Linked DNA regions of Homo sapiens: region 1 is linked to region 2. Evidence: fine-mapped expression QTL. A gene starts in region 2. The other region holds a variant in brackets. All regions are shown on one strand. Distances are between the middles of the regions.

Region 1 (16,538 bases), 43 kb before region 2:
TTGCTTGATATAAAGATGGTCTGAAGTACAGTAAACTTCTAATACTCCTGGATATAACAGACACAGTTCCAATGACTTGAGAATAAGCTAAAATTCATGAATAGAATCATACTAACTACAAAAATGACTTAAAGTTCACTAACATAAAAACATGTGTAAGCTACATTAAGAATAACTGCTAAAAATATTTTAAAATTAATTTTAAAATGAAAAATACATTAAAACAAAACATCAAAGAACCAAATTAAACCATGCATGACCTTTCTTTCAGGATATTTTCAAGTTACAATAAAAGTAAATGTAGAATAAATTTAAGATTCTAATGAATATAATAAAGTCACTAAGAAACTTACTGTAAATGCAATAACTCTTATTTATCTTTGTATCTACAAAGCCTAGGAATGGATCCTGTCACCCTAAAGAGATGGCACCTCAGGCACATGACAAAAGGAAAGTACAAATGCCCTCTTGAAGAAGAAACACTTGATCAACTCAGGTCTTGCCTAACATAAATGGGTAATTCAAAATTACTACAGAAAATCTAAACACCTGTGATTATAACCATCAGACACAAAGAATGGAATTAAGATACTAATTTTTTTTGTTCCTCCCACACAGGCTTCAGATATTAAAATTACCTGAAACAGCATATATTGTAAGGATATTTAAAATGTTATACAATAACATAACTCAAAACATGAACTAGCAAATTTTGAAAACTAGAACTTTTAAAAATATAAAAATATAATCTATGAAATTAAAAGCTCAATGAATAGAACAGCATATCTTATAAAACTGAAGACAGAAATAGTGAACTAAGTCAGACACAAATGATATTAAAACAGATTGAGCCATAAAGAGGCAAAATAAATGAGAAAAGAGGTTAAGAAAAATGGAGACCAGAATAAAATAAATCTATTTAAATTTCTAAAAGATCAGACCAAAGATACCAGACTGTGTATAATGGAAGAGGGAAGAAAATAATATTAGAAGAAATAAAGGCTGATTTTCCAAAACTGATAAAAGACACATCTTTAGATTTGGAAATGACAACAAACCTAAGCAAGATCTCAAGACAGACATGACTAGACACATCACAATGAAATTGCAAAGTATAAAAAGATATGGATACCTTTCAAAGCATCCTAGAGAGAAAAGAGGTAAGTAGAAAACTACATACATTATTACATCGACAGCAGACTTCTCAATAGCAGCAATGGAAGCCAGAAGACAGTGGAATAATATACTCTACAACTTAAGAACTGTGCAAACAGGAATGTAGGGAAAATAAATACATTTTCAGAAAGACAAAACTGAAAGATTTACCAAGAATAGACCCTTTCTAAAGGAGCAGCTAAAGAAATTGTAACAGAAAAATTCTTTTTTATAAAATGCAAGAAATTATATATTTCTTATATGCAAACATATATATAAAACAATGTTTACTGAAGCACTGTTTACAATTAGCAAAGTTTTGCAAGATAACCTATATGCCCATCAATATGAAAATGATTATACCATTATTATTCTATGAAACACTATACAACTCTGAAAAAGACTATAGCCTTGAAAAAAAAAGTTATATTTGTTCATATGAAAAAAAATCTAAAAGAGTGATAAATGAAAATAATGAGACAAGGTGAGGTCAGAGAGTTAAGGGGGAACAAGCAGAACATAAAGGGCCTTGAGAGTGATAAAAAGGAACCTGCTTACACTCTGGGAAAGGGAGCCACAGCAGCATTTGAATAGAGAGGAGACATGCTCTGACATATTTTAACAGGATCACCCTGGCTTCTGTGTTGAGTATAAACTGAAAGGTAATAAAATAATGAACCCAGTTATGATGCTACAGATAATATTTAAAATGAACCTCTTAGGAAAAGAACTTACATCATTCATATATATATGAATGACTCAGATATATATATATACATATACACACACACACACATATATATACACACATATGGATATACACACACATACACATATATATAGACAATTTGTGGTAAAATATCAGGGAAGGAAGCAGATAACATAAAATTTACAAGATGATCTACCCTCTTGAGACAGAATTCATGGCAAGGGCAATAAGGGTCCAAGAGTCCAATGGAAACTCTCCCAGTAGATTATAGTGGGTGTTTTATGAACCTGACGTGGACCCAGTGATCTTGCTGGCATGTAAATACTCTGGAAAGAAAAGAATCGTGTTTTATACAACTAAATGAGTTCTAGATCTGCAGAACTTCAACATAGATGATGAGAAGCCCTCCCTACTCACTTTGCAGAACCGCAACCCAGGCTGTGAAGGATCACATGACATTAAAACTGCAAAGACCTGTGACTAGCAACATCATTATGAATGGCAGTCCAGGAGCCAAGTGCAGCAATAATGAAATAGGATATACTTCAAACAATGGGCTAAGATGAGGGTGAATATCACTGTCAGCACCCACCAAAGTCAGAAGCATAATCCTAGGTGAAGCACTAAAACAAGGTCTAGACAAATGATTGCATCAGTGATATGGAAATAATCGCAGTGAGACATTAAGAGCAAAGGCATGAAGCATAGTAGTTGAGGTAGACAAGCAATTCCTCAGTACTTATGAGATACCCCTGGAGGGCCACAGAAATACTAAAAGAGAATGAATACCTCAAAATGGGATCGAGACCCAGAAGGTACTCAAGAGGTTATCAAGCTGGAAAAAAACTGATTCTAAATATCAATGTGATGTGATGTCATCTATACCTTCATGTTAGAGAAATCTAAGGACTTGTGGGGAACACCTTTCAAATGTTCATAGTAAAAACTAAGAAACTTGTTAACATAAAACTATAATAATAAAATGAACACAACATAGCTATTACATTTCAGTTCACAGGTCTCTGTTGATGTAGAATGAAAAGCAAATGAAAGTAGAGATGTGAATATTTTATTCTGTTTCTAATTAAATATGTTGTTTTATTGCTAAAATCTTCCCTGATCATATCCAGAATTTCCTTAAACTAATAATGGATAAATATCATTAACCTTTGAGGTCAAGATTATGACTGGTAAATACAACACTGTGATACTGGCAAAAAGAATCATTTCCTTGAAGGGGCAGAAAACTATTAGTCTGAACATGCTTACTAATAATTAAGTCCTACAGTAATTTTCACCCATTTTTCTTAAAACATAATTAGCGCCGGGCGCAGTGGCTCACACCTGTAATCCCAGCACTTTGGGAGGGCAAGGAAGGTGGACCATGAGGTCAGGAGATTGAGACCATCCTGGCTAACACAGTGAAACCCCATCTCTACTAAAAATACAAACAATGAGCCAGGCGTGGTGGCAGGCACCTGTAGTCCCAGCTACTTGGGAGGCTGAGGCAGGAAAATGGCGTGAACCCGGGAGGCGGAGCTTGCAGTGAGCCAAGATCGCGCCACTGCACTCCAGCCTGGGAGACAGAGTGAGACTCCTTCTCAAAAAAAAAAAAAGAAAAAGAAAAAGAAAACATATAATTATCAAGTTACTGGGAATTATATTAAAAATGCTATGTATTTCTAATAGAAAACAGTGATCTGATTTTGAGGCCAATTGGACTGGATTCTACTAAGCAGAATTCAAGAGCAAACACAAGTTCACAAAGATAATTTGTCATGTGACATTACACAAAATTGCCATATATCTTAGATCAGCGGTAAGAAGGATCACAAGAGACCTTGTTTCCTCTCCCTACATGGCAGGCTCCTTTATGTTCCACTAAAAAAAGACACATCCTTTTATATTCTACACATATACAGGGACTGCTCCAAATCTCCCAGCTTCCCTCCTAAAGTGTAAACTAATAGTTGAAAGTTCTTCCCAATGTCCAACTAAATATCTCAGAAGATAATTTAACTCTTTTCTCTCTTGTTGAAGAGCTGTGAAAAAAAAAAATGGATCGCCCCTACATATAATTTAAAACAAATTCAAAAACTTTTACTGAAATTCTATTTCCCATTGTTCACAAATTATTTCCTATATATCTACATAGCAGTTCTCAACCCTTTCTGTTCATTAGATTATCTAAGGAAGATCATTTAAATTTTTAAAAAGTGACCCTTCACCCCACCCAATACCATTCTAGACACATCTACAATTGTTTAAAAACTCCCCAGGTGATTCTTATGTGCTGTTCTGGTTGAAAACTACTGCCACAAATCTTTCTGTAAAGAAATTTTTCTCAAGCCTTTTAAAAACCTTCTGCCATTTTTCAAGTTTCAAATATTGTTTTAAACTGGACTAAAAACAAGAACATAATATATAATGTGATATCTAAAACTAAGTGTTTTTGTAGATATTCATAAGCATAAATGAAGCAAAAATTCTATATCTCAAATTCAATTTTCCCAATGACTTGATTACAACATCCCCTTGACTAGTGTCCAACACTGAATCATATCCCTCTCACTCTACCTATGGAACCCAGACACCAATGCTAAAAGTTTCAGAATCAGCCTTCACACGCCTTCATCCTCTACGTCTAATCAGCTGCCTAACCATGTTAGTTATTTCTTCGAAATGCAGTTGTCATCCATTCCTCCTCTTCCATATTCATCTTACTCTAAATTCTTATTGCCTAATTAGTCTTCTTGCCACTCAGCTCTTCTCAACTCACTGCCACTAAATTAATCTTAAGAGTTCTTATTATTCCTCCCTTCACAGAACAATATTCAGTGGCTCACTACTGCTTAACAAAACCCAACTCATCAAACTGTGTTAATATTTAATGCCTCATATAGAACTTTAAAATTTTAACATAACTCCATATACTAAAACCAGTGTTGCAAAATTCTGCACTTCCTACCCAATTCCATCCTACCTATCTAAATGTATTTCCCACCAACTCCAATGCAAATTTTCTACTCAATCCCAGTGTCTTTTCACATAAATAAAATTTATTCCCAATTTCAAGGATTTACTTATACTCCAACACATGCTGCACCCCCTTCTGAAATCCTATGTTCACTTTTCTCTGTCTCTCTAAAATCAATACATTATTCCTGATCTATGCTATGAGACCTTCCCAAAATACTACAACCACACAGACTATCCCACTTCCAGACAATAACCATCGCTACCAAACCATCTTATTTGTGTCTCCTCATTTAAACAAAGCTCCTAAAAGCCAGAATCATGTTTCAAATTTTAATGTACACTTCATAAAGGCAGCTTTTTCAGTTTTTTATTGAGTATATTTTCCATTCTTTCCATTCAATGGATATATATAATGCAAATAAAATTATTCCCTATCATATCAATTTTTCACAGTAAATGTCATAAACTTTATTTGCTTATTTTAATGTGCTTATTTTAACAAGTAGCTGGCTTACCCTAACATAAACCTGATCAATTCTGATTTAAAGGTAATATAATAAATCAAGTAATCCTTAACACCAAAGAGAGGGAAGTGATCTGCCCTTATTTTCACTACATATTTTCACTAAAGATAACAAGCAAATGAGCAGAGTAAAGCTATTACTAATTAAGAAAGCCCCATACTTCAAGAAAGAAATAGGCAATTAAATAGTAATCATGTAGAATAAATAGTAATTATACAAATTATCCTTGGGCATTTGCCACTGACGTGTTTTTAGTTAGCCCCCATAATGTACAGCACAGTACCTCTCAAGCTTTTTGGTCTCAGGACTGATTTATTCTCTCAAATATCACTGAGGTCGTCAAAGAACTTTTGTTTAGGTGAGTTATAGTAAATGACATTTATGTATTAAAAATCAAAACTTAAAAATTAGTAAAGCACAAAAATCTTCAAGTACACACTTCATTAGTCATCAGAGTTATAACTTCATCATGTCCTGAAGCCTATGCAAAAATCTACCATATACTTGTGAGAAATGGGAACGAAAAAGGCTAATAATGCCTCACTACTACGAAAAAAGTTCTGACCTCACAGAACTCCTGAAGTACTCCAGGGAACCGCCACAGACCCCTAGACTACACTTTGAGAGCCAGAGGTATATCACAAAGAATTTTAAAAACAGATTAAAATAATGTTTTTATGTATGGTATAAAACTTGTTTTCTAATTAAGATTTTCTTTAAAACCTGAGAAAAAGTCAAGGTATAATTATTTATACCTTATATATTACACAAATATAGTCCCTTTTTACAGGTAGAAAAGACAAAGGGGAGATTTCAAGGTTAAATGCCTTTAGGATATATAGGTAATAAAAATGAGTAGAGTGAGCCTACAAAAGACAGACTATAAAAGGACATGTAGTAAAAAATAGATCCCATTCCCCTTCCCAAAAAAGCAACCATTATTCAGCTCCATCCATGTGGAATGTGGGCCCAGTGTTGACAGATACTTTTGATTTTTCAAGAAAATCCAGAATATTTATGAAAACAAAATCACCTAATTTTTAAGTTGGGAAAAATAATTAAACATTTCATGAATACCATGTGAGCCAAATAAGGTGTGTCAGGGGGCCATTATTTTTTATCTCTGTATTATGACATGGGAACTTAAATTGGAAAAGAAAAAATTCTTTACGGTTAATCACATGTTTAAAGTAAAGGGCTACTTGAATTTTTTAATCTGTTACGGTGGCTTTTAGACTGAAAATAGTTTTTATCTAATTTTTTTCAAATGTGCCACACTAAATGCAGGAAAATTAATCCTAATTTTGCAGATTCTAAGGTTAACATTTTAAAAGAAAATGAACATGGACATTATTAAACCTGTTTCCTTGACCTTAAGAACTTTTAAAAAAATAAGTTAGACACAAGTTGTTTAATCAGAATTGGTACATATATAAATTATATATGTATATTATTTGACATTTTTGAGATGTCTGAATTTTATAGGCACACTATCAAAAGAAAATACAATCTCAGAATAGGGTTGATCACTTTAAAAATTAGCTTACTAGAGCCCATAATGTTGATATTACCATATGACAACTTCATGATTCAACATAAAGGACAACTGAAATCTGGGAGGATACTGGCTACTAGAAAGTTTCGAGGAATAGCAGACACTACTTTATTCTGGTAACTTCTTGAGAGTATTTACATCACAACTTGTAAGAAACAATGAGAAAATGAGACATCCAAAAGGATTAAAACAGATTAGCAAAGAACTCATAAAGAGAAGAATTATGTCCTTTGGAACAACAAACAGAATCACACATTTAGAAAAATAATTATTGGCTGAGAAACTATAGCAGGAAAACAAACTGAAAGAAAAAGAATAAATTTGAAATTCATGACCTCAGACCAAAAATATGCTTATATTTGTTGTATATTCTAATACTAGTCTATCCTCTAGGAAAGTGAGCAATTAATTCCCATTTAGGTTGTCCTAAAAAAAAGTAGTAAGGAAGTAAAACAATAAAAGAGTTGGGGGATTATCATTTGAAGTCTAAAACTTTCAGTAGTATATAATTATATCTTCAGTGAATTCTTAAAGCATTCACGGCATGGTAGTTACGTGGCTGGATACTGAAGTCAAACTTCATATAGACATGCCATGCATTGTCATTCACTCATTATACACCAGGGGCGTCCAATCTTTTGGCTTCCCTGGGCCACAGTGGAAGAAGGAGAATCATCTCAGGCCCCACATAAAATATACTAAAAATAGCTGATGAGCAAAAAAAAGGAAAAACTTTTAAAATGCTGTAAGAAAGTTTATGAATTTTTTGGCCACATTCAAAGCTGTCCTGGCCACATGCAGCCTGCAGGCCATAGGTTGGACAAGCTTGCTATACATGATCTTTCTCAAGCTACACAGCACTCTGTGCCTCACTTTTCTCCAATGTAAAGTAGTGATAATAGCAGTACCCACCTTGAGAGATGTTGATAGGATGAGTGGAGATTACATATATTCACTATATCATTATATGCATTCACTATCACTATTCGCTATCACTTTATTCATCATTGTAAGGCGAGATGGAAAAAATGCTGAGATACTGATGCAGAAATTTGACCATAGTGAACAGAGGTAATGCATTAAGCAAAATGGTAGGTTATTACTGGCTCTTTCTTTCTCTTCATATAAATTTACCTCCCCTCACCCAGGACCTTCCCAAGTCTGGTCACTTGTTTTGTAATGCCATCCTTCTATACTTCTGTCTTAAAAGAGTAATTCCTTAAGAAATTTTTACATTTATGGTCAACTAATTATTAGTTCAAAACTTAAGAGTGCTGCACAACAGCTCACCACCCATTCCTAACTGGCCCACCTATGTGTTTCACGTGTTCTTCTTTCCTTCAACTCACTCTCAACTTCTATTTTCTATACTTATCTCTTTGCCCTTACCTCATTATCACTCAATGGCCAGCACAATCTCTCCTCTCTGTCACCTTCTCTATCTCCTTTCCTCATTTTCTGTCATGGTAAAAGTGAAACTGGGTAACTACAGGAAGAAATGTGTATTGTTACCAAAGGGAATCGGAATAATAGAAGAAACATTAAGTTAGTTAAAAGACACCATGGCAGACTGATCCTTAGAATATGACTCAAATAATACAATATAAGCTGCTGCTTCCCCATATGCATAGTTATTCTCAGGAATAAGTTACATACATTAATACATCCAAGCAAGAAGCCCAAGTGCATAAAACCTTAATTATTGCTCAAGATTGATATGTGACTGACAAGAGGAGAAGCAATTAGTCCAGGTTGGTAAATAAAAGCAGACAGATGACACAGTTACTAGCAACTTAACTTCCATCACCTCTAAATGGACTGTAACTACATTCTTGGTATTGACAATGCCAATATAAGATCAGACAGAGCCTCCGGATTCTTTGTACACTAAGATGCAACCATCTCCTCCAAGGAGTTGTATAATAACACTGCCCACCAGACCTATGTATCAACAGAATAGGTATCAAAATGCCAAATACCAAATTGGAAAGAGTCTTAATTATGTACCGCAGATATGCAGTGTCCTACTTCTTTATTTCTATAGACAAACATGATCATATTAAACAAGGAAATTGGGGAAAAAAACAATGAAGAAAAAGGATCAAGATTTTGTACTCACACAACAAGAAAATAAATATTCAGAACTTGACAGAAGTCTATAATGGAGCTTTTTAGGAAAAAGAGTAAATACTAGACATCTACTGTTTCCTGCATTTATAGTGTGGTCTGCAATATACACTCTTCAAATTATGAAGTTTAAACACCTATGTTTAAGAATAAG[C/T]ACAAAAAAAAATTAGAAATATGCATGTATTATTAGACCTCAAGTATCCACCCCTGACAGTTATTTGCTTAACCTGTTTTTATAAACACAGCATACAAACCTTGATGAATGTTTCTCCTGTTATTCTTCTACCTTACCCAACACTTTTTCCCCCTTACCAGCTTATTTTACGGTCAGAGGTTAAACTGCTAACCCTTCACCTTCCAGGAAAGTTTTTTTTCCTCTCTCATAAAAGGTTTTTCACAGTGTGCAGCAGTCGGATTAGCTCTTCTCTTCGAGAACAAAAGCTCTGTCTTTGTCTTCGTTGTTTGGGCATGGAGCCCCTACATCAGAGGAAGCTGCTCCTACTCAACATGCACAATAATGATATTGTGAGGCCCCACGAAAGCCTGGCCTCTCAGTGTCTAGACTCTCATCCAACCAGCTAGCCAAAGAGAAAATCCTGTCAAGCACTCAGCTGAAAATTAACTAAGGTATCCTGTTGAGAACCTGATGAAGATGTTATTTGACCATACGGTAAAACTTTCTATTGTTGAACATAAAGATAAGAGAAAAACTTTTAGAACTCAATGCTTTAACAATCCTGGTCACCAATTCACACATGGGTCAGTAAATGTATTTTACCAACATACAACCCCTTCCTCTATACGTGCTCTTAAAATAATACACAGGCTTATTTATGATATTCTAATCTCTTGCATTTAAAAATCTGTGCAACTAAAAGATACATTCAAAAAATTACAAGAAATTATATTTTATTTGCAGTATTTACATTAAATATTTATCATTAGAAATTCTGCTACTGTATTTTTCACTGAAGGACCCAATCAAAATGCAGAAGTCAAAATAAAACTGTCATATCTTTTCATATTCCTGAATAAGTTTTAAAATATTGAACAGAAGAGAAACAGTAAACTAAAAAGTAGATAACTGATTAAAACTTAGAAATGAAAAGAGTATATAAACCAAACCATTCTTATAAAAACTATCTGTAAATTTTTTAACCTGTAAAAAGTTAAACACATTAGATAAATTTAAATTCAGTCATATGATGGTAGTGAAAGATAATTCTCTCAAGTATATTAAGTTATGGTTGAGTTCATGAATATTTACAAGGGGCTTTGGGGACTGCTGCAGTTTATGAAATATTTTGTAATTTAAACCAATAGCAACAACAAATATTGAAAATTAAGTGAAAACTATATATGATTACAACCACATTTAATAAGCTCATATTGAAATCTAAAAAGGAATACACAAAAATAGATGTTTTGTGTTATTGGTATAAAAAGAAAAATCTTTTTCCTTCTTTCAAAATTGACTGCAATACATTACATTCGTAATTTAAAAAAAAAAACTTTGCAAAATAATCAGAATAGTTCAAAACCCTACAAACAGACAGCAATTAATGAAAGATAAGGGTGTAACTACTGTATACAGGATTCAGAATTAAAGAATACATCATTTGTTACATACTCCATAGAGTAATATAAATTGATTTCCCAAATTTTAGGAGAAACATAAATATGCTTTTTTTTTAACCTACAACAAACTTAACAAAAGAAATACATTTATTCATAAGGGGGAAAATAATCAATGCTTATACATAGCAGATGTCTGGCATGGAGGAGTATGTTCCTACTCTTTTAATAGACACATGAAAATCTAAGCCTGGCAAACAAAAATATTTAAATTAAAGACTCTGGAACACAGTGGATAAGTAAGAACTGGCAGAAAATGTTAAATATTTCATTCCTACTTCTGTAGAAAAAGCGGACAAAATTTTAACAAAATTTAAAAGAACATTTCATAAAACAATAATATGCAATTTTAAGAAAATAGATTTGGTTAAATCTATATTATATATGAATAATACAAAAGTTAACAGAAAGGTACAAAAAACAATATTGAATGGGTCCAACATGCCTACCATTGAGTATCTTTTACATCAATGAATTAGCAATCTGTAAAATGATTACAGTACCAAATACATCCACCCAAATACTGGAGGCAGAATGGCTTTATTCTACTATACCTCTGCTTCAAGTGGTTTTATTTCCTCAGAATGCTACACAGCTCCACCTTGGCTTTTGGCAATTAAACTAAATAAAATTTAAAAGTCCAAGACCTCAGAGAATTCACTGTTAAAAAAAAATACTCTGAAGCTACTTCTCATGGGTTCTCGGGTACATTTCCTTTGTTAGAAGAAGTGATCTAAAGTTTTGCTTAACAGTTTATGTTTACTTTAGTGTGAACTATGAAACATTCCATTTACAAAGTGTTCTTAGACTTTTATGAATTCTAAAGGGTATTACTCGAAAATACAGGTTGGGGCCATCTTTTCTCCTCCCGTGGAGCTGCCGCCATGAAGGTCGAGCTATGCGGTTTCAGCCGGTACAAGGTCTACCCCGGACACGGGAGGCGCTACGCCAGGACCGACAGGAAAGTTTTCCAGTTTCTTAATGCAAAATGCGAATCGGCGTACTTTTCCAGGGGGAATCCTCGGCAGATAAGCTGGACTGTCCTCTACAGAAAGAAGCACAAAAAGGGACAATTGGAAGAAATTCAAAAGAAAAGAACTTGCCGAGCAGTCAAATTGCAGGGGGCTATTACAGGTGCCTCTCCTGCTGATATAATGGCCAAGAGGAATCAGAAACCTGAAGTTAGAAAGGCTCAACGAGAACAAGGTATCAGGGCTGCTAAGGAAGCAAAAAAGGCTAAGCAAAGTATCTAAAAACACTGCAATGGCTGCTGTTAAGGCACCTACAAAGGCAGCACCTAAGTAAATGATTGTGAAGCCCGTGAAAGTTTCAGTTCTCGAGTTGGTGGAAAACGCTAAACTGGCAGATTAGATTTTTAAATAAATATTGGACTTAAAAAAAAAAAAAGAAAATATAGGTTGGAATACTGCAAAACAACCCACTCTTTTGATTTCAAGCTCAATTTTAAGCTGCAGATTCCAACTTTTATTGAACTTGAATAGCAAAAATTTTGAGTCAGAGATAACATAAGATCTACTCATTTTGAGACTTGGGATTAAATGGTTTGCCCAATTCTTTCTACCTGTCTGTCTGTCTCTCTATCTATCTATCTATCGAGACAGGATCTTGCTCTCTTGCTCAGGTTGGAGTACAGAGGCACAATCATAGCTTACTGCAGCCTCAGTTGAGGCTGCCTCAGCCTCCCAAATAGCTAAGACTACAGGCGTGTGCCACCACACCCAGCTAATTAAAAAATAATAATAATTTGTACAGACAGGGTCTCACTATGTTGTCCAAACTGGTCTTGAATTCCTGGCCTGAAGCAATCCTCACACCTTGGCCTCACAAAGCACTAGGATTAGAGGTGTGAGCCACCATGCACAGCCTCTTATGTTTTAAATTAAAATAATAAATTCTATGTATGTCATAAAAATCATCCCTGAGATAATCTGTGATAAATTTGTTACTGTAACCTTTCCTTACAAATGCCCATACTGCATTCCTGTTGTACTGGAATGTCTATTCATTAGCCCCAAGGCTCTACTGATCTTGCTTGCCTTTCTCTTAGACTGCTATTCAGATTTTTGTTATACCACTCATTCTGAAAACAGCTTCCTTTTTATTTGCGACTGCTGAGTACACACCCAAGCATCTATTCTTTTGAATGTCTCTTTGAGACTACTTCATAAATGAGATTTCTCAATACTAGCATTTATGCAAGACATCAAAACTATTGCTATGTCTCTTGAAAATCACTGAAGACTGACTAATTGCACATAAAAAAGCCTATTCTGAGTCTAAATCATACTTCATCTTTGATAAGCCCTCATCCATTCCTAACTCTATCCCAGTTCTTCCAATTGCACACATAGGGCATATCAGAGACACTGCTCCTTTCCTACAATCAGCTATAAGGCAGCACACCAATAAACCTGACAGCAACATCTCCAACAGAATAGTGGGAAAATCATCTGCCCTATGTCGAAGTGGTTGGATCTAAGCACCACCATAGCCCTATTCCTTTAGACAATGGCTTCAAACTTTCAGATGCATAACAATCACCTGGGAAACTTTTTCCAAAATGTAGATTACACTCCCACCTCCATCCTTAAAATAATCAAAGTATGTCCCAGGATCCTGACTTCTCAATAAATCATCTATAGCTCTAAATCACATACTGACAAACACTGAATAGCAGCTCTTTCTAAACACTTGTGGACATCTGTCTAGCAACATTAAACATTCCATCTTGGAGGTATGACAAAACTCCACAGGCCCCTGAAAACAAGGAGATTTTTTGCACTCTATTAGACTTGTTTGCCTCTATCTACTAAGCATTATAGGAGATTCTCCTACTTAATCATTACGGTGAGAATGCAACAATGATTCTTATTCATTTTTAGGCCTTTTCTTAGCTAGACAAGAAAAACATTCACATAGGTATCCAGGATCTAATTTACTACAGGTAGGGAAGCCTCAAGATTCTAATTATGTAAAAATTGGTGAATTTAAAAATAAATACTTAGAATTCTGCTTCAAAAAAAGAAAAACAAGTAAAGCTATGTCTTCCTGTTGAGTTACAATACACATCTCCCTTTAGTCTGGTAGAACTGTGTTTTCCAATCACCTTGAGGAAATAAAGCATTACTTAGTTCTAAGATAAAATTTCCAGTATTATGCTGAAATTTTATTAGAAAGGAGAGGGTAACATAGATATCTGACCTGGAAGCAGATAACCCAGCTCATTTTCTTCCCGCAGGTTTTGATTGCCTCCTAATTTCCTATAATTTATTGTCCCTATTTACTTTCCCCTTCAACTGTATTTACACAGATTTCTCTGACACCTGTTTATTACATTTCTTCTCCTCTCTGTCACTGATCCAGTATGAATTAGCATGCATGAGTACCCTCTGTTATATAACAGGACAAAGGGGAGTATCTAATATTATAACTGGAAAAGAAGCTTTCATGACAAATGATTTTGAACCAATGCTGAATTTTGAATTTAAGGTGCTATTTTTCTCATTTAGACATAGAAGTATTTTCCTTTCAAAGCCAAAAAATATCAACATTAAATCCACATAGAGAATGACAGCCAGGTCACAACAATTCCCTCGTTTCTGGGAACTACATCTTATACCCAGGGTGGGTTTTCAGTAGTTGCATCCACAATTGGTGAATGTGACCTCAGGCCAGAGCTGATAAGTCAAACACATGACCTAATCTGGCCAGTTTCTTTCTCATAGAAGACTTGGGTTATTAACTGTGAAACACAACATGGAAGATGCTGATGCAGAATCACTTTTTGGCAGAAAGATGACAGAAGATCCTCAGAACTTCCATGGTAACTATATTCCCAAACATTATTTACCCATGTACTTAGTTACCATAGCTTTTCTTCTAACCATAGATGCAGAATGTTAAAGCAGCACTTTTACATCCATAAACAGGACATCTGCTTCCAGCCAAGAGAAAGTACAAACTGTATTTGCTCTCTCTCTAACAACTAAAAATCTAAAAAAATACATTAAACAATTTTCAGACATTAGTAAATGCAGGACAGTGATCCCTGACAGAGATAAAACAAACAAGGTAAGCCTTACAATTGGTCTTAATATCTGGAGTTTCCAGGATGTGGCACAAGGTGGGAGAAACCCAGGCAGAGCCCAGTGGTCTTCCTGAGATGAGGTTGGAAGGCCAAAGCATCTAGACTCCACAAAGAGAACAGAGACGAAGCTGCACAGGAATAGAGCTCTGGAGAGCTGCAGAAGGTTCACCACCAACCCACCCAAGACTTTAGTGCTGATGATCAGTGCACACATATGAGGAAACTACCAGACACTGAGGAAAGAATCACCCAAAAGAAATGGGGGGGAAATCCCAGGATCAGCTGACATTCACACCACCCAGAGTGGGAAAACCTCATAATCAACAAGAGTATCCTGTACAGTACTCAGAGGGTAACACCTTAGCAGTGGGACAAAATCAGCACTGGACTGAAGATGACTCTGGTTTCACCTACCAAAGCTTAAAAGCAAGCCTCAAATGTTCAAACTGTTTCCAAATAACTTAACTGTAATCTAAAACAAAACCTTAAGTGCATATGGGACATATACGAGAAGAAATCATATAATGCACCATAAAGCAAGTCCTAACTGATTTAAAAGGATTCAAGCCATACCATGATATTCTCTGGAATTACATTATCAAAATATAACAGAAACATCACAGGAAAATCCCCAAATATTTGTAACTTAAATAACATACTTCTAAATAACCCAACGGTCAAAGAAGAAATCAAAAGGAAATGAAAATCTAAATGAACTCTAAATGAAAATAAAAACAAAACTGATAAACTGATCAAAAGAAAGGACTATTCTCTGTGAAAGACAATGTTAGTTAAAAGCATGAAAAGACAAAATACAGATGGGAGAAAAAAATGCAAATCCAACAAAGTCATTGTATCCTGGATATATTAAAATCTTTCAAAACTCAGTAATAAGAAACCAACCCAATAAAGAAAATATAAGAGAAAGAGCTGAACAGACATTTCACCAAAGAAGATATACAGATGGAAAATAAGCAAATGATTTCATCTTAATAAAACATAATTGAGTCTTAAAATGCTTCCACCAATTTCTAAGAAATCAGACCTTTACCTCTAAATTAGAATATGTAATGTGCTAAGATATTCTTAACAGTTCCTTTCAGTTACCCTATGAAAATTTTGCACTATCAAATATAATTTTGCATCAGCAAAGACAATCACTACAGCCCTGAACTTGTGTTTGATTTGGGGCTGGGCAGGCATATAACCTAATTATGAGCGCAAAAGGAAGGAGAGTGCGATTTTAATTCTGTTAAGTTGGTTAAAGTGAGACTCACTGACAATGAGCAAAAACTTGAAAAAGGTAAAGAAATTACTTGTGCAGATATCTTGGGAAAGTGTATTAGAAGTAAACAAAAAATGCAAACCCTTGAAGGAGCATGCTTGATGTTGTTCCAGGGATAGCAAGAAGCCAGTGTGGCTGCAGTTAAGAGAGCAAGGGAGAAAAGTGGGAAAGGATGAGGTTAGAAATGTAAACAAGGGGGATTTGAGCCAGTTATATGGAGCCTTGTGGGTCCCTGGCAAGTCTTTTATTTGAATGATTTGAAAAGGCAGAGGGATGAATAAAAAAGGAATTATGAGCAAGAGATCCCTATATGGGGAAGACTGAGTCTCAGAAAGTCAAGGTTTGAGAATTGAGGTTGTAGACAAATTTCTATTACTGTATCGAATATGCTACACAATATATTTTGAAAACTATCAAAAGGAAGATGAAATCCTTGCTTCAGTGAGTTGATAATGTAGTTG
Region 2 (16,538 bases):
GGAGGACACTAAGAATTCTTTGGCTTAAGGCTCTAATTTAACAAAAAAGTGAAAGGCAGTTAAACTGTTAACATAAGTTGCAGATAAGAAAAATTGATAATTTGAGACTGGGTTGGATAGGCAGATCAAAGTAGAAAGCTGGTAGCAAAGAAGAATTTGTTCCTAAGAGAAACTGTTCTAGGTAAAAAGAAAGGAATAAAGAAAACAAGACGTGCTAAAGATGTTTTAAAACTACTATTAAATAGCCAGAACTATTAGATCAAAGATTCACTAAATATGAAGATGCAAATCCTAAAAATGAAAAGTGACAGGGAGGGAAATGGGATGAGTTAGGCTCTGCAACCACAAAGAAAAAACTCAGTAATTGTTTTAGGTGGAATTATATTGGATTCATTAATTTTAGGGAACACACTGTATTCCCATTTGGAAAAAATGATTTGTACCACATACAGTTTATACTCAAATATTTCCTCGCATGATAAAACCACCTATACACGTGAAGTCACTATGCAATGGGAGGCAACACAGCAGTAGTTAAAATACAGACTCTGGACAGACTACCCTGCGCAAGTTTCATCATTTCTCTGTTCTTCAGTTTCTTCATGTGCCAAATGGAAACAAGCATTTCCTATATCATAAGATTTTTGTGAGGCTTAAATAGTACATGAAAAATATCCAGAATTTTGCCCAGCACAGAATAAGTACAACATATTAGCTGCTGCAGCTGCTGCTGCTGCTCCTCCACCTCCTTTTCCTCCTCCTCCTCTTCGTCGTCCTCCTCCTCGTCCTCCTCCTTCTCCTCCTCCTCTTCCTCCTGCTCCTCCTCCTCCTTCTCTTCCTCCTCCTCCTCCCTTTCCTCCTCCTCCTCCTCCTCCTACTACTACTGCTACTATTACTACTTGGAATAAACTATCAACAAAATTAAAAAAGAGAAAGCTAGAGTACCAAGGCCACTTCCCAGAAGAGAAATGCTTAGAGGCATACCCAATCTTTTATTGACGAAAAGTTACTTTTCATTTCCCTGAAGTCTTAAGTCACTTTGGGGAAGGTGGGGACAGTATGGTAACAATGACTTCTGTTAACAGAATTGAGGAGAGGCCATCACTGCTGGCTGTACTTCCCTGCCTGCTAAAAGGAAGACAGACAACAAAAAGAATAAGAACACTAGCAATTATCTTGGAGATCTACCAGGAAGAGCATTAAGATCTAAATTTTGGCACTTCACTTTTGGACAGCTGGAGCAGAAGTTACTGGGAGGTTGTTCTGCCAGGGAAACCTCCATTAAAAAAAAAAATGCCACAACTAATCTGTCAGACACCACCAGAACAAATTCTACTAACACATAGGGGACACTATAGGGAAATACTACCAACCCCTCTTATGGCATTTTTTTAGATTTGTAGAGCACTCCATATGAAACTAACAAGCTATTTTCCAGAATGTTCTGAAATGTGTTGTTCTCAAAAAAAAAAAAATCAATATAATGCCTCTGAAACAAGTCCAAATAGCAGTAGACCAGATAAAGATCACAATCTTACCAGAGGAGCTTTATCAAGTTATATTTTAAAAGCTAATGTCATTTCACACTGTTAACTAAAATTTAATTAACAACCTGTCTCTGAAGATACTTATCTAAGCTATTCAGGATAAATGAAAACATTTAGACTTACCTATGAAAAATGAACAAGAGAAGCATGCCAAATACCTTAACATAATGTCACCAATCTTAGTATAAACCAAATTTACTCTAAATACATTTTCTATTTGATCAGTCAACAAAAAATTATATATTCTAAAAGTTCTTTAACAAAAGCATTTTAATTGATTTCTCAACATCTATTCATTGCCAATTTAAATAAATCAATCACAATAGTCTTGCCACCAACCCCTTTACCTCTACCCCACCAATGATAATTTCAGGAGTGGTCAGGTGCATGCCAACTTAGGCTACCAGGATCTAAGGAAAGGCTTTCTAGGGGATTTGAAAAAAGAAACTTTCTGGCTCTAAATAGAGACATGTAAAGCCAGTGTCTGTCACCCCCAGAGTCACAAACAAAAAAGCAGAGTTCCAACTTCCACTGACAGTCTTATAACCGCAAGAAATCTAAGCCCTCCAATGACACCATTACTGTGAGTGGCAGAAATGAGAAGCAGAAAGCACCTGGATGTTTGACGACTTCTTGTATGAACTATATCGATGTTTGACGACTTCTTGTATGAACTATATCAAGTTTCTCTAGTTTCTCTATTATTTAAACCAATCTTATGTTTGTACTCCAAAGCATCCTAATTTATACATTTTGTTTTCCAATCTATTACTATTTAAGAATTTCACCCATGATCATTTAATGTTAGCAAAAAAAAAATTATCGTACCTTAAACAAGCTGATAATGCACATATCAGAGCCTCATTAAAACAAATAGGTACTAACAGTTAAATATGAGGATTCCAATAACTTTTAAAATATTTTTCATATATTTTTCTATTTAAGATTTAGCTGTAAAGTAGAACATTGATAAAATATTACAGAAACATAAATCTCTCAATTTGGCAAAAAAATTTACTTTTATAGCCCTCTTATAGTTATTGATTTTATTATTTATAGCTACTAATTTATCATTTGTTATTTATTATAGTTACTGATTATAGTTATTACTTGTTAGATCCTAAAATATTAGCCATATTCATACTATTTAAGTCATAATAAAAGAAGAAAGGTTACTGCTGCTTACATGGCTGAGTTTAGTTTTTTAAAATATCTTTAGAATTTTCTGCCATTTAGCCATATAGAATGGATTATTTGCAACCTACAAAGAAGCCAACATTATTTACTTTAACCATTTATCATATTTACAACTTTACCAGGCTAGATATAAACTGTTAAAATACAAATGAAGATGTTTCTAAAAAGTAGTGATTTAAATAACAACAGCAAAAAGACAAGGTGTAATATTAAAGCAGGGCAGAAGTAGAAGATACAAACTGGAATAACTAGCTCATGAAAAGTGGAAAAGAGCAAAAAGAGGAAGAAGGGAGTAAACCACTCAAAAGCCTTTATAAGAAGACCACAATCTCTCTGACACATGCATAGATTGGGTGTTATATAAGGCAAATTGATCTTTTAACAAGATCACTTTAATACACATTTAAAATTAGAGAATCCATATTTTCCAAGTGAAATTAGCCTGTTGTGTGTGTGTGTGTGTATATATATCTATAAATATATATAAAAATATATATCTATAAATATATATCTATAAATATATATCTATAAATATACATATCTATAAATATATATCTATAAATATATAAATATATATCTATAAATATATATAAATATATATATCTATAAATATATATAAATATATATCTATAAATATATAAATATATATCTATAAATATATATATAAATATATATGTAAATATATATCTATAAATATATATAAATATATATCTATAAATATATATCTATAAATATATGTATCTATAAATATATCTATATATCTATATAGATTTTTTTTTTTTTTTGAGACAGAGTCTCACTTGGTCACCAAGGCTGGAGTGTGGTGGTGCTATCTCGGCGCACTGCAACCTCCACAACCCCAGTTCAACTGATTCTCGTGCCTCAGCCTCCCCAGTAGCTGGGATCACAGGCATAGGCCACCATGCCTGCATAATTTTGGTATTTTTAGTAGAGATGGGGTTTCACCATATTGGTCAGGCTGGTCTCGAACTCCTGGCCTCAGATGATCTGTCCACCTCGGCCTCCAAAAGTGCTGGGATTATAGGCGTGAGCCACCGTGCCACGCCTTTACAAGCAATATCAGATGAGCGTTACTTCACGCACCTTCGGTAATGTTGTGGTAGATATTTTTTAGATTAACTTATATCATAAACCACTATAGAATAGAATTAAATTGGAGCTGAAAACATAATGTATCCATTTGAGTATCCATTCTACCTAATATATCCATTCTTCAAAGAGGACCCGGTTGGGGCTCAAAATAATGCAAATGGACAAACTTTACTACATACAGGACAATAAAAGATAACTTCATCAACTAGAAAAGGCTCCCTACAACCTAGGATCACTCCTTGCCAATAGACAAACCTGACCACAGCTGCAGTTCAGATAGACCAGGAGTACAGTAGTAGGGCTGGTGGAGCCAACAATATGTGACTTCATACTAAAATTAGCCATGCCCATTTCACCACAACTGGGTTGGGCTTCTCTATTTTAAGGTGTGCAGCTCCAAATTACTTAAGAGTAGGTAATTGCTGGATAGTTTCTGAAGCTAAAATTGTCAGCAGACTTTCCTCCAAGGCTTTAGGATGGCCAATCAGTCTCCACGAAACCCCTATGCTTAATCATCATGCTATCCAGGGTCTAAGCACACAGCAAGTAAAGACATATACTTTAAGTATCTAGAAAGACATACCATGCAAGAACACATTAAAAGAAAATAGGCAAGAAAAGAATTCCTTATTCTTGTCTGCTAACCCTGCCGCCTACCACACATATGCACAATACACAATATGACAAAAGTGGAGGGAAATGATGAAAATCATGACATTAAAGTATTATGCTCTCATCTTTTCAGGAAATTGTACGGAACTGACAGCTGAAACCCTTCCAAGTAATTTCACACTATCGTTTACCTCCCTGCAAAAGTGCTGTGCTATTGGAGTAAATCCAACAGAAGGGGCTACTCAGTCTGCATTCTGCGTTCTGGAAACATCAGAAGGGAAGTGGTGTAGTTTCCATTGGTACTAGCAGGAGAATGTGCACTAATGTTTAAAAAAAGACACTAAATTTCCAAACATAAATGAAAGAAAATGAAAAGATTCGCCCTTTCACCAAAACTAATGATAACTTTACCAACGAATGGTGAAGCTGAGTTGTAAGTTATATGGGCTTAACAACACACCTGAAATTCAAGCTGCACTGATAACATTCATGATTTTTACAATCCCAGGGCAAAGACTTAACACCTATTTTATTACCAGCAACTTGAGACACTCAATGCAGAATACACATTTAGTAGTATTATTTTCCTATTACTACCATGTTCCAGCAGTCCACAATATTAACACTTGCTTTGACAGATTCAATCAATTATTTTAAGAATTAACAGAACAGGCCAGGCACAGTGGCTCACGCCTGTAATCCCAACAATTTGGGAGGGCAAGGTGGGTGGATCACTTGAGCCCAGGAGTTCAAGACCAGCCTGGGCAACGTGGTGAACCCTGTCTCCACAAAAAAATATACAAAAATTAGCTGAGCATGGTGGTGTGCATTGGTAGCTCCAGCTACTCGGGAGGCTGAGGTGGGAGGATCACCTGAACCCGGGAAGGAGAGGTTGTGGTGAGCCCTGATCATGCCACTGCACAGCCTGAGGAACAGAATGAGATCTTGTCCCAAAAAAAAGAGACCTTGTCAAATAACAGAACACAGAAGACACATACCTTCATTTTCAGAGGCATGACATTTCACTTTCAACACCAAGTCAAAGGTTCTGTCTGGATTTGCCCTAAAAGGAAAAAGTTTAAATTAATTTCCTATGACAAATAAACATCTCCATGAAACTTGTATTTTCTTAATTCTAAAACTAATCTTGTTTTTGTCTCAATACATTTCACGTGACTGTATTACTACAGTATAGTAGAAATAACAATGAAACTGTTTTCTCAATTGAGCAACTTAAAAGAGCTGAGACTTAGGAATTCTGAAACTTGGGGCAAAGCATTTAAACGCTGAGACTGTTCTCCCTTACCTATGAGGTGCCTTGTCCACTTCACAGAATAATAGTGAGGATTATAAATCAAATAACATATGTGCAAGTACTTCATTAAGTACTAAGTGCTACAAAAATGCAAAGTATTGGTTTTATCTTATTGGATCAAATTTAAAAGCCAGAGTGTCCCTAAGTGTCATTATACCCTGCCAACAGAGTTTGACACAGGTTCTCAGGCTGTCTCCAAAGGACTTGCAATATAAGTGTAAATGATGAATACATGGTTCCACCTGCCAAGTTCTAGATCACCATAAAACATTGATAATGCTCCATGAATGTGATACGTTGCATATACTTTTCTTAAAATGTATTTACTGTACTTATGCATATTTAAAGTAGCAAACTATTCATAGCTCTAAGGCTAGCAACATAAAAAGCCTTCTTTTTATCCATTATCTTTGGAGAAACCAGCCATCTGCTTCCATGTTAGATTTTCCCACTAGAAACTGTAAGTTTACTTTGCTTAATTCAGAAGTTATTGACTTTTTTACTAACTTGCCATATTTGCAAAATTTCAAAGCAACATTGGTTAAATTTCAAAAAGTGAACTGAAATATACTGAGACACTTTTTCTTCATAACATTGCTGTTTAAATCTCTCGTTCCATCATAAGGTAAAAGATTAAGTCTGTTACCACAACGGCCAATGTGTTAATATCTCAGTTATTCCTGCTAACAAGACCTTAGTGCCTTTGTACATTGGCTGTATTTAATATGTACTTCCTTCAAGAAACGAATGCCAGCTCTGACTTTAAAAAAAAGCATTTCTTTTTTTGGAAGCTTTTCTTATAAGATATGAATCTGGAAACATAGGAAGTGACAAGACATATAAATTAACATGCAAATATACATTTTTTTAGCCTTTCCGCTATTAACTTGTTTCAATGGGAATAATCTGGGCTCAGATGACTTCCTCCCTCTTAAAACAATTAATGTCAAGAAGCATACTATTTTTACTCACTTACCCTGCCCACCATGATGTCAAACACACTGAAGAAAATAATTCTATTACATAATTTCCCTCTTTCCCTAATATTCTTTAGAATTTCTCTTAGGTGTAAAAGTTAAATATTGACTCAGTTTTACTTCTGTGAAATTCAAACGGCCTTTCACAATAATACAAATATACATGGCATTATTTTAAACTTTTTGAGAAGGAGATAGTAAAGGGTGGGTAAGCGAAGTAAAAAGGAATTCTTTCCAAAGTTAAGTTTCAGAAGAAAAATATAAAACTCATGCCTCTAAGATACCTAGAAACAAAATCACCACCGTTATTAAAATTGCTTTTTACCTAATCTCCTGAGCAAAGTAGTCGTTGATAAATACTTTAGCACACACATAAAAGTACCCTCTAATTGGATACCGTTTTGCAAGAACCATGCATCTACAGTTGCTGCATAAAGAAACACCAGAGACCAATCTAATTTTATAAGCAGAATCATAAGAAAACATCCAAGACAAAAGTAACAAACGGACTTAAGAAAACACCGGTTATATTTAATGCTCAGAGAGCACTCGGAATAATAACCTCTTAACCTCAACGCTGACTCCCTCCCGGACACCACACGCACACAGGCAGCCCCAGGAGAGTCACATCTGACACACTCGGGGGAAGCACGAGAACCCCTCAGCGGCGGTGTCAGGGGCCGCCCGGCCTCCCCTGTCCCCCGAAAGGCGGGCGTCGACAAGGCGCTAGTGGCCTCTCCGGGAGGAGCCGCGCCAACCACGGAGGGCCGGGGACGCAGGGCGGGCAGGCTTTGCGGCCTAGCGCCGTCCCGCCGGCCGGCCAGAGGCTTGGGGGCCGGACCGCACCCCCAGCCCGCCCGGCCAACCTCGGCCGCCCGGGGAGCCGGTTGAGCGCGGAGGCGCGGAGGAGCCGAGCTGGCCTGGGAGGGGCCGCCGAGGGACGCCCGCCCCCGACGCGCCCGGGCCCCCCCACTCACTTGGTCCTGCAGTCCATGGTTACATGTCGGTGTGGGGCTGTCCGTCCGGCCCCCGCGCGCTGGCCTGGAAGCCCGCAGCCCGGCCGCGCGAGGGTCGCGCCGTCCCCGCCCACGCCGGCGGCCACACAGGGAAAGAGGCTGCTCACAGCAGCCGTGGCGGCGGGCCCATGTCGGCTGCGCCCCCGGCACTTCCCCGCCTCCCACCCCACCCACCAGAGCCTTTCTGTGACAGCAGCGGTGGCGTGGCCGCCGCCCCCGTCTCCGCCGGTAGCCGCCACCAAAGCTGAGGCCTCTCAGTTCCTGCGACCGGGGCCGCCCGCTGCGGCTCCTGCACCTTCTTGCAAATCAGGAAGTCGCCGGGAGGGGGAAGGGGCGCGCGGGGACGCGCCCAGCGGCTTCACCTGGGCCGTGCGGCTCGCAAGTCGGAGACTGTGGAGGAGGCGGGGGCCAGGTCCCCGCGCCCGGGCGGCCAGAGGGTGCAGGGGGAGCGCTAGTGCCTGCTGGGATGGCCCACGTACCGCTTTGCCACCTAGCCAGAAAGGCAAGGTGCCCCCTGTGTCCTCAGCATGAACCAAACCGGCTTCCTTTCTGGGTCCAGTCCAGATTCCAGGGCGTCGGGGCTGCAACCCCACAAAGGGCGAAGTACCTGGAAAAGTACCTCGACCTGCAGTGTTTTCCACACACATACACACGGACTTGGGTTCCTTTCATTTCATACTACAAATTCAGAGCTCAAGTTGATGCCCCTGGCTCTTGCGTCACTCCAGCTGTGGCCTGCTTACAGCTCTCTGAAATCCAGAGCTACCCCCTCCTGATTCAGGAATGTTCAGACATGTGCACCTGCTAAATAGCCCTGTCAAGTAGCCAAATGGTAGTGCCCCACTTGTCTGCGCATGTGGGAGGCAGACATTCCTATACCACAGACTGCAGTGATAACCAAGGACTAACTTTTGAACACATGTACATAGTCGCAGGCCTCATAGTCTGGCAGTTTAGGCGAGTTCAGAGAGGGCACCACTGAATAAGCGTGGGAGGGACTGATTTACACAGCCCTAAAGCACATGTGAAGCAGGTTATGTGCACTCTCACCCAGTACTTGTCATAGGTGTGTGATAGATACTTTCATCAGCATTTTACAGATGAAGAAACCAGGGAGTAATGGCAAAGCTGGAGTTCACACCAGGTCTATCTGATGCTGATTATTTACTTCTACCTCATATTGCCTGTCTCCCTCCTCTGCTGTCTCATATTTAGGATCTACTGAGAAGACAGGTAGAAAAGTCTTATGATGGACATTCAAATGACTGTGGAAGGCCAGGCTCTTACACAGAGATCTTCTGGGAAAGGCCTTCTCCCAGCTAACACTGCCACCCTTGACACATAGCCACAGTGTTTCTTCCAAAAGGTGGTTACTTCAGACTTTATTCATGCAGAAGTTAAGATGATGAGAGGAAACCAAATGTGGTATGAATGTAGTGTGAGTCATAAGACATAAAAGTCAGAAAAGGAGTCTTAAGAATTAAAAAACTCAAGAGTCAGAGAACCTGAAGTTGCACTCAGTTATATAACCTTAAACTTTCTTGCCAAAATTGGGTACTACTTGGTCAACAGGATCAGAAATATTGTATAGCCATGGGCCTGTTAGTAAAAAATGAGGACGGGCCATAACTGGGAAACAAACAAACAAAAAAAAAATGTGTTTATCATAAAGTGTTGTCATAGCTTGACTCGGGGTGAGACACTTCAGTTTCTCGGTTCCTACATTTGTAAAATGGGAATTATTACTTGTACATCACATGAGCAGTGTGATGTTCAAGTAAAACAGGTGCTACAAATTTGTATTATCTTTTGAGAAATTATTCTGTGAATTTCAGTTTCACAATTAGGCAAACTATACTACATAAGTTTTCTTTTCCCAAATAAAGATTTTTCTGCATAAGTGACCATACTCCAAAGCCTTGAAAAAAAAAATTCGTAAGCTAAAAGCCACTTCTGCCCCAACTGTTACTGAATTTCTCAAACTTCTCCTTTCATTATAATTAATTATTTCCAAAGAAAGGAACCCTACTTGGGGTGACCATATTGAGGACTTTTTAATTTGGTGTGAGGAGATAATAATACAATTGTTTTCCTCATCCATTGTTGGGATTTTATTTTAAATGACAGTCATACCCTTGAACAGTATAAAATTGTTCTTCATTCCATTTATGTTAAGTACATCGAGGGAAATACTACACATTCGCATCCCAAAGCAAATCTTTTTAAGTGAGCTTTTAGGCTGACCATAATGAAGAGATTTATCTGTTCTGTTATTACTGAAATAAAAGGGATAGGAACATAGGTGTACATGATCTACATGCATGAGGTGTTAAAAAATTAGAAAACAAATATCATACACTTACCTTGGTAATAGCTTTAATGAAATCGATGGTATAACTTTAGTAATACTCATTTCATATAGAACTTCCCATATGACTGATAGAGAAGTGTACAAAGGGCAAACCTTCAAATTAGTCTTAAATCTTCCCAAGATCATATTTCAGCAATGATATTTCCTACTCGACAATTAATATTAACAGTTTTCAGGACCATACCAGTCAAAGAACATAGTCTGTATTGTTGTCAAAGAACATGGTCTTTATTTATTAATTAATTTCTTATTAATTAATTAATTTAGTTAATTTTTTAAATGTTTCAAGACTTAAATGTTGTATGTGGTTTGTAAAGAATATATATTCTGCAGCTTTGGGGTACAGTGTTCTAAATATATGTCCATGATCAAATACGATGATTGTGTTGTTGACATCTTCTATTACTGAATTTGCATCTGCTTGACATAATTCAATTAATGGGAGAGATGAGTTTAAATATCCCAACATGATGGTAGATTTTTCTATTTCAGCCTATAGTTCTTTCAGGTTCTACCTTACACAGTTTGGGGCTGTGTAATAATATACACATCAGTTTATAATTTCTATATCTACCTAATAAATACAACCATTCATCATTATGTTGTTACTTTCTTTACCTCCAATCGTACTTTTGCCTTAGATTCTAAACAGTTTTCTTCTGAATAGTATTTGTCTGATGTTAGGATATCTCTTTTCATCCTTTTACATTCAAACTTTCTAAACCATCATGTTTCAAATTTATCTAAAATTTTTAGTCTTGATTTTTAATCTAGTCTGATCATCTTTAGCTCTTACATCAAACCCCTAGACAATTTGCATGTATTAAAACTGTTGATAAATTTAGGCTGGGCGCAGTGGCTCATGCCTGTCATCCCATCACTTTGGGAGGCTAAGGCGGGTAGATTAGTTGAGGCCAGGAGTTCAAGACCAGCCTGGCCAACTTGGTGAAACCCTGTCTGCTAAAAATACAAAAATTAGCTGGGTGTGGTGGGTGGTGCAAGCCTGTAGTCCCAGATAATAAGGAGGCTGAGGCTTCAGAATCACTTGAACCTGGGAGGCAGAGGTTGCAGTGAGCCAAGATCATGCCGCTGCATTGCAGCCTGGTTGACAGAGTGAGACACTGTCTAAAAAAAATTAAAAAAAAAAAAGAGAGAAAAATGCTGATAAATTTAAATCTATTTCTGCCATCTAATTTTGTACTTCCCGTTTGTTTCTTCTGATCTGTTTTTTTCTTTCACTTTTGCATTCTTTAGGATTACTATTTATGCTTTCATTTCTGCCCCCACCTCTTCTAGTTTGGAAGTTATTTACTCTGTTTCTATTCATTTAGGAGTTATCCTAGAAATTTTAATAGGTACATTTTAACTGATTAAAGCCAGAGTTCACAAGGATATCCACCCTCTCTCAAACAATACAAGAACCTCTAAAACCCCCTCAAAACTAAAATCCCCCCAAAAATGCATTATGAATGTTGTTTTATACAGTCCATGTTTGTTTAGATTTACTCAGAACTTTACCATTCTTTTGTATTTTCATTTTAGATCTTCTGTGTAGGATCACTTTCCTTCTGCCTAAAATTCTTTCCCTTTTTGTTTGAGTTGGAATGTATTTATTTATCCCTCACTCTTGAAAAATATTTTCACTGATGAAGAATTCAAAGTTTACTATTATTTCTTTCTGCATGTTATCAATATCATTACACTGTCTTCTAAGTTCCCTAATAACAATTGGAACTTTGAAAGTAATCTTAAAATGTCATCTGTTTTTTCTCTCTGACTGCATTTATGATGTTTCATTTTTGTCTTTAGTTTTCTATAGTTTCACTGTGAAGTATCTAGGTGTAGATTTTTATTCATCCATGTTTCTTGGTTTCTTTAATTTTCTTGACTCTGGATTGGTGACTTTCATCAGTTCTGGAAAATTCTGGACTCCTTTCTTTCCATTCCTTCTGGGACTCTGATAACACATGTGTTATTCTACCCTCCATGTTTGTCAAACATCTCTTTTATAGTATGTCTCTCTTTATCTGTCTACGCTGTATTCTGGAAAATTTCAAAAATATTCTGTTCACTAATTCTTTCTTCAGCTTTGTCTCATTTTCTGTCAAAGTCACCCATTTAGTTTTTAATTTATATTATTTTTATTTCTAAAGTTCTGTTTGGTTATTTTCCAAATCTGTATTCTCTTAACTCATATTTTCAGCATCTCTTTAATTTATTAAAAATATTTAATATATATACTTTAAATTCTATTTCTAAAAATTCCAATATCTGAAGCATTTGTGGGTCTGCTTCTACTAACTGATCTTTTTTCTACTTGTTCATACTTATGGTCTCTTGATTTCTTCTATGTATGTGATTTCTTTTTATGTTATGTGATCCTTAGAACTTTATATATAGAAATTGAGTGACAGCTGAAATGAAAATGAGTTCTCTGGAGAAGATATTAATTTACTGCTGGTAGATGCTTGGGATCACTAGCAATTCAGAAACATAAACACTAAATTCTCAGCTTGAAATTCTTCAGACCATTCATGTGAGACCTGGTTTGTAGCTATGAATCCTCTGGGAAGCTTTTTTCCCCTTAACTATGCTCCATTGTTTGAGACAATTGTCCTTGAATACCTTTGGGGTGTATCAGCTTTATGAAGAGTATCCTGTTGGATTTCCCACATTAGGAAGGGTCTGAAGACCCATAAGACCATGATAACAGTTCATGGTCTTCCAGTTCATCCAGCTTAGGAAAAACCCTAAAGATGAAGATGAAAGGTGGCTTTTCTTTTTTTTTTTTTTTTTGAGATGGAGTCTCGCTCTGTCGCCAGGCTGGAGTGCAGTGGCGTGATCTTGGCTCACTGCAACCTCCACCTCCTGGGTTCAAGCAATTCTCCTGCCTCAGCCTCCCGAGTAGCTGGAACTACAGGCACCTGCCATCACGCCTAGCTAATTTTTGTATTTTTAGTAGAGGCAGGGTTTCACCATGTTGGTCAGGACGGTCTCCATCTCTTGACCTCGTGATCCACCCACCTCGGCCTCCCAAAGTGCTGGGATTACAGAGAGAGGTGGCTCTTGTAGCTACTTTTATTTGTCCCCCATCCTCCACCCCTAAGTATTCTCACTTGATTGCCTGCTCTTCAATGCATTGCAAGCTTTTAAAAATACTTAATTCTGAATTTTTAGTTGATTTTCATGCAAGTTTTGATCAGACTATAATGGATAATTACTTGGTTCTGACTATAGTGTCATGTAAAATGGACTAATTGCAACTTTTTAATCCACCTAATAAGGTCCACTTTCCTCAAACCAGGTCCAAAAAGTCCCCAACTTATATATCCCTATATATTAATGGTGTAGAGAAACCCAAGTTCAGGGCTTTTAGTGAGCCAACTGCCCTGATTTCCAGTGTACTATGACAATTAGAAAGGTAACTCCTGGCTTCCCAACCCCAACCACTTATTCATTGAATCCTTGTAGTAATATGCCTTAAACAAAAGTGAAGAGTTACTGATACCCAGGACTACTAAAGTTGACAGCTCCTTTCCCTTCTGAATGCGAAATAATAAACACTATTGTAAACTCTAGAATGGTATTTTTAAAAATAATAATACTATTAATAATGCTTCAGGTTCAGTATAAATTAACTCGACTAGACTCATAAGCCTCACCAATGTATATGAAGATTTTGAGTTCCAAACAATTAACTTAGAAATGAATTTTTTGAGGCAAGCATCTCATGAGTTGTAGCTAACATGTATCCAAGTCAGGCATTTCCTAGACTAACTCTGCACAACCTCTTATTACTATTCTTAGGTGAAATTTATTAATAGTATTACCACCTTCATTTATTATAGAAGAAAAGTTATAAAGTATTTAACAAACTGAATTTATTGAAGCTCTTAGGAAACTATCTTTAAATTATTTTATCAGGACCTGCCTTTTAATATTGACTGAGATAGTGTTGTTAAGGAAAACATCCTCCTGGCATGTTGTCCTTTTTATACTTAGCAGCAATATCATGAATTTCAATCTGAAGGTAAAATCTCCCTCAACAAGACATGTGAAATACTTTTAAAATAAAGAGAAGATGGAGGTGGGGATTCGGGATCAATATCTTCCCTGAAAGTTTGCCTTTCTGAGTTGTTTCACACCTCAAAGCTCATAGAGTTAGCATTCTATGTTGATTTAAAATCCAGTTTAATAAAAATGTTGTCTTCCAGTTTGTGGACAAAAGAACTCAGATAAATTTTGACACCTTTACTACCAAATCTGAACATATCCAAATATTTCTAAAATTCAATGGGTCGATGATGATATTTGTATATCTTGCTGTTAAACTTTTAGTAAGAAAATACAGTAAAATTCTCAAAAATAATACAGCACAGCAAAAGATCTTCTTCTGCCTTTTTCAGGTGATTTGCCAAAAATTGTAAATAAATTTTCTTACCTCTGACCAGTTTCTGCTTGTTCTCCCTTATCTTTGTTCCTCAATCTGCCAGACATTGTAGAACTTAAAACAGTCCTTGGAGTTCAGAACAAAGAATAATTGAAGCAGAGTGTCACCAACAGATGGTAATCAGTGGAGTCAAATTTTCTTCAGAGATTCTTTGAGGATTCTCCTTTGGACTTCAAGAAAGAGTGCTGTGTTTGTGTAACCATGTGGCATTGCATGGGAAATAATTTCCCAACCCCACCTACAAGATACTCCACGTAAATACAGTCTTCCTTGTATGGCAGCTCTGCTCACACCCATTTAACACTCTCAGGAGAATGAGTAATCACATCCAATGAGCAATGTCATTAGAATTTTCTGGAAGGAAACATAAATGATCATCTAACATGATGATAATAGTTCAACAAAATCAGCAGCCCCATAAGCAACCCTAATCCTAACGTAAATAGAGAGATTATCAAAACAAATTGCTGTGTGCCAAGTTTTGCTTTCCTAAAATATGAGAAAATAACTAGCCAAACATTACATGCATTTGTATATGATCAATTCTAGAAGGGGAAAAGTGCAACATTCCAGCAAATAGAACTCAGTCAAATACCAGGTCAAATGGTATAATTCCACAGCACAAGTTCATATGAAACAGAGACTTGTAACTCCAAAACAGATGACAAACTCTCCCCATCTCTTACTATTGCAAATTATAACAAGATAAAAATGAACAAGGACTGAGAGTTCTTCTGGGCTTCAAAAGTATGGACATCATCTTTCTCTCTGCTGTTGTTTCTGATGTCACAGACCCAAGTCTTAGGCAAGTAAGACTTGCCAAAAAATGGTCTGGTAAGACCATTTTTGCTTGTAATCTTCTCTGGGAAAGAAGGAACAGAAAGAAGGATCTGTGAAACTGATCAACGTCTTCTTAGTTTGGTGAGAACTTATATGTTTCCTTTGTAAAAAGGATGCAGTCTCACCTGACTTTCTTCATTCACGGTGCATAATTCCAGAAGTTTCTTCCCTTCTTCTCGAGACTGCCAATCAGGACAGCTGGGCTTGGCTGGAATGGAAAGGAGGAATTTGGACCCATGATCCTGTCCATTTGCCTGACTGTATGCAAGTGACTTAATAAAATTACTGCATCAGTGTGTAGTGACTTCTTTCTGCCTGCTGCACAGCTGTTTCCTGGGCCTTCCCTTCACTTCCCTCTTGGACTGAGTTGTGGATCAGGAACATATGACATTAGTATGTATACTGTGCATAGTAATTATACTGTGTTCTCCCTATGGTTACTTAATAAAACTACCAAATAGGTGCTGCTAATTCAGATTCTGTGATGATGTAGGTACAGCCATTGATTACTACACAACCCATTTATATGCCTATCTGATTTTTGACACAAACATGTTGTACTTCCTCTTTAAATAAGCAGGCATTAATTATTACATAATGTATGCAGGAATTCATGAGGATAGGCTTAATATTAGAATTAGTAGGAAGGTTTTAAATCAAGTGGCCTACTATTGAGCTAGAAACAACTCACTCCAGCAAACCAGCTGGCTTAACTACTCCCAGTTTGTGAAAGAAAAAAAAACTTTAACATTTGAGTCACTGTATCATTTCATGCACAAAGACTTCATGGACATACCAGAAAGACAAGCTTTACCACATTTGCATTTATTCTTTTTTATAGTTGTTGTGATTTTGCCAAGTGCTTTATGACCATTTTTTATTAGCTAGGCCTCTCAATAGTTCTGTGAGGTATAGATTAGGAGGTAAAACAGGTACTATAAATGATGAAGCAGGAAGCTAACTCTACAGGGACATTTTATTCCAAGAACGCCTGTGTGGAAGAATGCACTTTCCCATGTCTGCCAGAGGCACCAGGAAATAAAAGTCAGTCTGCATACTACTGAGTCATTTACAAAAGCCATTTTCTTCATAAAGCACAT

The links. PIP is the estimated chance that this variant, and not a neighbour inherited with it, causes the effect.
Region 1: its variant is fine-mapped to the expression of DENND1B in whole blood (INTERVAL, PIP 0.95).

Annotation. Positions count from the first base shown.
Region 1 is chr1:197,724,068-197,740,605 of GRCh38, forward strand. The region is part of intron 2 of DENND1B (DENN domain containing 1B); the gene reads right to left. It also overlaps the pseudogene RPL24P5. Among named protein-coding and RNA genes, the nearest start is that of DENND1B, 43 kb to the right of the region's middle. The variant C/T (reference allele first, on the strand shown) is at 9,204.
Region 2 is chr1:197,767,401-197,783,938 of GRCh38, forward strand. DENND1B (DENN domain containing 1B) reads right to left here and starts at 8,080. Exons shown (of 23, transcript NM_001195215.2): 1 at 7,739-8,080; 2 at 5,468-5,532. The coding sequence starts at 7,755. RefSeq lists silencers at 7,428-7,937, 8,088-8,287, 8,579-8,873 and an enhancer at 9,248-9,297.